2 linked regions of the Homo sapiens genome follow. The protein of the gene in region 2 purifies or fractionates together with the protein of the main gene of each other region. This does not show direct contact. Each region holds a gene or a part of one and is shown on either strand. Other genes may lie near its edges. The genes, in order: RAD23B and PCTP.

What was found.
Region 1: the proteins of PCTP (region 2) and RAD23B purify together in Homo sapiens (affinity purification with mass spectrometry; one large-scale study listed by BioGRID and IntAct). This does not show direct contact.

The regions. Positions count from the first base shown.
Region 1 is NC_000009.12:107,328,160-107,330,689, reverse strand, and holds part of RAD23B (UV excision repair protein RAD23 homolog B), read right to left. Parts: intron 1,148-2,530; coding exon 1,034-1,147; 3' UTR 1-1,033. UniProt on the Homo sapiens protein: Multiubiquitin chain receptor involved in modulation of proteasomal degradation. Binds to polyubiquitin chains.
Region 2 is NC_000017.11:55,749,395-55,753,874, reverse strand, and holds the start of PCTP (phosphatidylcholine transfer protein), read right to left. Parts: upstream 2,825-4,480; 5' UTR 2,772-2,824; coding exon 2,631-2,771; exon of another isoform or gene 1-2,630. UniProt on the Homo sapiens protein: Catalyzes the transfer of phosphatidylcholine between membranes. Binds a single lipid molecule.

The sequences.
Region 1 (2,530 bases), on a different chromosome or scaffold from region 2:
TCTAATAAAGAAACACATTTACAAATATCAGAAACCCAGTTTTGAAACATTTGCATTAATTTTGAACTGAATCAGCATTTTGTGGGTTTTTTAAAAGGCAGCAGTTTGACTCACGACTTGCTGATAAACACGTTTCTGCTGAGGGAAGGGGAAAAGACAGGGAGAGTGAATGCTGCATTTCTCCATTGGCCCCAAAAGTGCTAATTTCACAAAGGGATACATCAAAAGCAAACATGCAATGGTTGTTTTAAAACTTTTACTGCAATATAACAATGAAGTAAACAGTAATTAGACACCTACCAATTTTTTCCCCAAAACAAAAAAAAAATGTAAACAGGAAAATAACTCTGCCTATACTTGTACAGCTTCTCAAATCATGTTAGAAGGGTCTCACATTCAATGATCAAGAAATTTTAAAATAGCAGTAATTATTTTCATTTTAAGAAAAGGTTCCCTTTCTCCCCTCCCACCCCAAGTATTTAACATGAAAGAATGGGCTTCCTTACATATTAATTTTATACTTATTTTTGAAGCAGCAACAATTAACCATCAATTTGGCATTTCTGTTTACAGTCGCTACAAAAATTTTTTAAATTTCACAAAGCCATTATCCAGTGTTGCCATGAAACAGAGACTGTAAATTCTAGGTAGCTAAGATTCTTTCTGAAACCAATGTTAAGTCAAAGAAATATAAAGCAGGGCATTACACTAAGTTTCTGGATCTAGTACACTAAAAAGAGTGAAACCTAGGAAAAGTTACCTACTGTTTTACAGAAGAAATAAAGACCTGCAAAAGCTGATTTTTGGTTGTATATATTTTACACACTGTGTGGAGTTGCGGCATCTGCTAATTGAAGCAGACATGCACTGTATTTATCCCTGCCCTGTATCCTAGATCCCTCCCTCCCCACCCCCAACAATCTACTACCTTATACCAAGTATTGTGGATATGAGCCCAAGTCATCCCAGACAATCCAGTGAACAAGTTAGTGTAATGCACTGGTGTGAAGTGTGAGATATAAAAAAGTCCCTTTCAATCTTCATCAAAGTTCTGCTGTAGAAGAAAATTGGCAGCCAAATTCTCATTCTTCTCACAAGCAAAATACGCTTGTATCACAAGTCCTTCAGGAAATCCTAATGCCTTTAACTGGAAGAAAAAGGAAAAAAATATAAATCCAACACACCAATTATGGCACATTTAATTTTATTTACATATTATAGATTCCAGCATAGCACTAAAGATAAATCATTACTCAAAAACATACTGCAACCCAAAAAAGCTCTTGAGAATTTTACATGAATTCATCTCTATCAATATGGATTTACTGCCCAACCCAAGGGATTAGATGGAATCTAGACCCTTTCCTTTACTAATCACCTAAAAAAGTCTTTGTTTCTAGTTAAAGCTTAATAGATACTATGCAAATACTCTTTGGCCTAATTAAAAATTAGCTGCTAACTGCTATGGTTTAAAAATAAATGACTCTACAGAAATATGTAAATCAAATGGCTTTTAGTATATTAAGAGTGAAGATAAGGATGAGAGTACCTGCAGTATAGTTTAACCACCTCACCTATTTCTAAATTAAAAGCAAATTATGTTTTATTTATTAATGTCAACTCATGTCTTTCATTTGGATCAAACATCACTCTCAATCTCCTTGCTTTATTCAACACTCCATACTAGAAAAACAGGTGACCAATTATTAGTAATACATGGTACATTTTGAAGATAATGTTCTATTTTTATCTGCTTAACAGTTACAGCATTTTAAATGGTAATACCAGCTACTTAATTTCATTTTCCTAGTCTATTATATTAAAAATCACTTGTGACAATACTCACTCCTTTTAAAAGCCTTTAAAAACTCAGCCAAATGTCACCCTCCTCAATTGTCTCAATCACCTTGAGTTAGATCACAGGTCCCAAACCCCAAGACCGTGAACTGGCACCAGCCATTGGCCTGTTAGGAACTGGGCTGCCCAGGAGCAGGTGAGCAGTGGGTGAGCAAGGAACTGGGCCGCACGGGAGGAGGTGAGCAGTGGGCGAACAAGTGAAGCTTCATCTGTATTTACAGCCACTCCCCATCACTCGAATTACCACCTGAGCTCCGTCTCCTGTTGTATCAGTGGCGGCATTAGATTCTCATATGAGCATGAACCCTACTGTGAACTGTGCATGAGAGGGATCTAGGGTCTGTGCTCCGTATGATAGCCTAACAAATGCCTGATGATGTGAGATGAAACAGTTTCATCCCAAAACCACCGCCCCACCCCACTTCCTAACCTAACTAACGCCTGATGATCGGAGGTGGAACAGTTTCATCCCAAAATCACTGCGCCCACCCCACCTATGTTGGTAGAAAAAAAGGTCTTCTACGTAACTGGTCCCTGGTGCCAAAAAGGTTAAAGACTGCTGTGTCAGATTATATTTGGAAATAACCCTTAAAATTTGGGCAAAAATCCCAATTCATCACGAATAACTATTCATCTATGAAAGCAGAAGAAACTAAAAAATCAGTTTGTTATC
Region 2 (4,480 bases):
GTAGGGGCTTCATGGGCAGATGGACTTGGATCTAAATCCCAGTTTTATTCACCACTTCTTAGCCGTGTGCTTTGTATATGCCACTGACTTTCCCTGGACCTCAACTGCCTCGTCTGTATACAGGGAAGATGGCACAGCGGTCTGGGCTCGCTAGAGGAGAAGATGTCAGGTCTATGGTAATGGGAGAGAATGATGGAAATGTGAGTTGAGACCAAATTAGTTCAGTGTACCCACCAGGCAGCATTTGCCTTCTGTTTGGAGAGGCAATGCAGGAGCATGTTGAAGACACAGGACTGGAGGCAGACAGCTGGGTTTGGATCCTAGCTGGAATCTTGAGAAACCAACTTAACCTTTCTATGCATTCATTTATATATAGGTAAAAAGGTGATCATCATAGTACCTTATCATAGGGTTGATGCAAGGATTGAGTAAATCAATACTTCCAAAACACTTAGCACCTGAATTATAAGAAATCATGCAATAAATGTTAGCTATTACAGTGATGATTATTATTATTTCTGCAATCAATAGGCCACTGAAAAGGTAGTGATAAGATCACTGCTTCTCAGATGTTTGACTGCACTGGAAGGTGTAGGATAGACAGGAGCAGAGAGCTGGTAGGCCAAAAACTAGTTAAGAGGTCACTGCAATTCTAAGTGAGGGGTGCTGAGTACCCAAAGTAGCAAAGATAAAGGAAAGAAAATGGGAGGAAATAAGCCAGATGCTAGACACGTCTGAGCAGTTGAATCAACAAAACTTGGCCAAAGCCTTGATGTGGCTGGTAAGAAAAATGGAATAGCAGAGAAGATAAAAGAATTTTGCCTGGCTGGGTGTGGTGGCTCATCCCTGTAATCCCAGCACTTTGGGAGGCTGAGGGCTGAGGCAGGAGGACTGCTTGAGCCCAGGAGTTCCAAGACCAACCTGGGCAACATAGCAAGGCCTCATCTCTAAAAAATAAAAATTAAAAGAAAGACTTTTTCTGAAAATGTATCAATTTTCAAACTAAGGTACCTTTTAAAGTTACCCTAAGAAATTAATTCTGCCTGTTCTAGACTGTGAACTTCTTGATCATCTTGTTAAACCCAATGGTCCTAGTACACAGCAAGCATTCAGAGTTTGTTGAGTGAGTAATCCATCAAGATATAACATCTGTATACAGAAAAAAAGTAAATATGGCAGCTTAGCCACTTGCAGTATCTGCTGTGTTCTGGATTATGTAAAGGCCAGCCCTACTAATTTGTAAGTATTCCAAATAGCATGTTTTACAGTCCCACTAACTGGAGAGGGACGGACTGCATCCAAAGCAAATATATATGTATTTAGACAGGAAATTTCTTCATAATACCTATATTCTCCATTTATTTAGAGTAGGGTTTCTTGACCTTGGCAATATTACAATTTGGGACTGGATAATTCTTCCCCGGGAGAGGTATGGGGTCACTGTCCTGTGCATTGTAGAGTTATTTACAGCTATCAAATTTTCACACATATCTGACAGATTGGATTTGAACCCCCTAACAACCCTGCAATGAGACAGGCAGAGTTTTCATTCCTGCAATGAGACAGGCAGAGTTTTCATTCCTGTTTAACAGGTGAGCAACTTCTAAATATTGCAAACGTTTGTTTTCTGTTTTAAAATATAAAAACACTATATTTGATGTAAACAAAAATGCAAGTGCCTAAAAAGGCAACCACATGTTTGACATTCACAAGATCATGAACCCTCCAATCCCACCTCTGCTATTCACTTATCTGGGCCATTTCAGGAGTGACTTCACCCTTGAGGCCTGTTGCTTTCACCTATGAAACCTGGGGTTTAACCAGGTGAGCATGAGGTATCCTCCTAACTCTAACACTATAATATCCTGGTCCTGTATTAGGAAACTTCAGTTTCACCCACATTACCTGCAGGCGACTTTTAACCTACTTGCCATGCTGCGACTATTACACAAAGCAACTGATGACAAGCCTTGGATGACAGGCCTCAGGGGCAATGCCTTCCACCTGGATGGCTACCTGATTCCAAAGACTTCAACAACCAATCCCATTCCTCCTACATCTTTACTCCTGCCTGAAGATTCGGACTCAACTTATTAAGAGCAACTTGGAAGGAAGGGGCAACAACCAAAAGAAACGAGTCACTAAAACAGTAGGGCCCTTCTCGGCAACCCCTGACACCACCCTGCACATCCAGTCCTTGAAAAGTTCTGTTTCTTTTCCTCCTATATCCAAGCCCTAAGATACCGCCCCTCCCCCACCCCAGCCCCCATATGCCACTGACACGCATTGGAGAGTGAGGATCAACGTCCCTTGCAGACGTGTGCACGGGCCTAGGAACCAGCTGACCCACGTTTCAACTGTCATTAACTTCTAACTACATGCCCCGTCGGGCCTGACCTGAGGCTGAACTCCTGTGACCTTCCAACTCCCCTGGATCTGCACGGCAGTCACTTGGAGGCACCGCCCCTGCGCTAGCTCCAGAGCTTGAGACAGGGTCCGGGCGGAGCTCCTTCCTGAGCCGGAGAAGACGCGCCCCTGTCCCTTCCGCGACTGCCGCCCCGCACTCCCTGCGGGGAGGTCGACCCCGGCGCATTCTAGGCCCCGCGGTCCTCCAGCGGGTTGGCCGCTACCTTGTCCAGCAGCCGGTAGATGCTGATGCCCGAGGTCTCCACTAGGAGCTGCCAGTCGGCCCCGGCCAGAGCGGGCTGCTGGAGCTCGGCGCAGGCCTCCCAGAACTGCTCCTCCGAGAAGCTTCCGGCGGCCAGCTCCATCCTTCCGCAGTCCGGGCTCCTCCGCCTGGAGGGCAGGCCGCGGACACCCTTAGTGTGGGCCTGGGGGCGGGGTGACCGGGCTGCCCCGGCTGCCCCGGCTGCCCCAGCGTCATTGGCAGGAAACTGAGGAGAAGGCGGGGCCTAGACTGGAGGAGCGGCCTGAGGGTGGGGCCCTGGAGGGGCGGGCCTAGAAAAGCGGGCGGGGCTGAGCAAGGAGTGAGGAGGATAGACAAGAAGTAAAAGGAGAAAAATTGGACTTGATGTGGGGAAGGAAGGAAGAGCTGGAGAAGTAAGGAGGCTTCCAGAGGGAAGGGAAAAAGGAAGGGAGACAGTGATGTCACCTCAAAAACAGCTCCTCAGTAGCCTATCCCATACTCCCTGCTACTCCCATAACCTACAGACCTGTTTGAGTGTCTCTCATTTACCTTTCTGAATAAAGTAGAGAAAGTCTCTTTGGTAGACATGAGAGGAGAGGTGGGCAGAGTAGAAATGCTGGAAAAATCCTAAGGGGTCAAATGCCAGAAGTGTATTTCAATATAATTTCTCTTCTTTCTGCTATACATTGTAAAACATTATTCTGAGACGAGGTCCATTGGATTCCCCAGAAGACTCTAGGGGTTCATAACACCAAAACAGTTTAGAAACCTAATCCATAATGGATCTACAAGGTTGTTGCCACCCTTGAGGGTAGAAACTGATCTGAAAGGTGTCGTACTATCCACCTAGGATTTCTGCAACTTGCATAATTTAGCTCACTGTGCAACTCAAACATCTTCTTGTTCCTTTGAAGTCCCTTGAGTAATACTGTATTTCCCACCAGCAGACTGTACTACCTGACTTTGAATAAAGTAGGTCGTTTGAACATCAAAACGATGTAACAGCCACGTGAGTGCCAATAAACTCTGGAAACTCATGTTTCCTAATCTGTAAAATGGGTCAAGAATTGTGCTACCAGTTACAGCTGAGGAGGTGGTTGGACAAGGAATAATTTTCCACAGTGCCCGTCCAAGTAAATGTTCAATAACAATTTCCACTTGTTTTGCATTACTATATTGAAATGCTTTTCTTTCCTTACTTGAAAGAAAGTTGATGGCAAAGTCTTAATTTATGTGATTTTCCAATCAGGCAAATGATCACATTTGGCAGCTTGCTTAGTTAGACACAGCAGAGATAAATAATTGCTTTCCTCAAGTCAGTCCTGGTTCTGTTTGGCTTTATAGGTGTGGAAAGAGGGATGTGAAATTTTCCTAGACTAAATGCACAAAAGTTTAGGCTAGACATACTTTCCCACTGTTTTATAACTCCTTGTAAATTTTCTATGTATTGTAAATCCATATTTTATTTAAATGGAAATTCATTGCTTGAAAAACCAATTGTGTAAAAACTATTGGCTATGAAGTATTTTCAAGTATCTTCAAGGAATCCATTATAAAGGTTTGATTTGATAAAGCTTTATTACTATATGGCAATAGACTAATGGAGACAAGCATAAGAACACAAACGACATCATGCAAGATATAAAGCACGCACTTCAAATTGTATTTATTGTATGTGTTTAAAAGTGTGTTGCCTAATAAACTCAGGAGAAAAATAAATATATCCTTGAATATGCTGAGATTTACACTCAGTTATTTTATTACAGTTAATGAAAGAATAATGTTAGGAAATATTTTATGGTATCTCTAAAGTCTAAAAACAGCTAGGAAAGG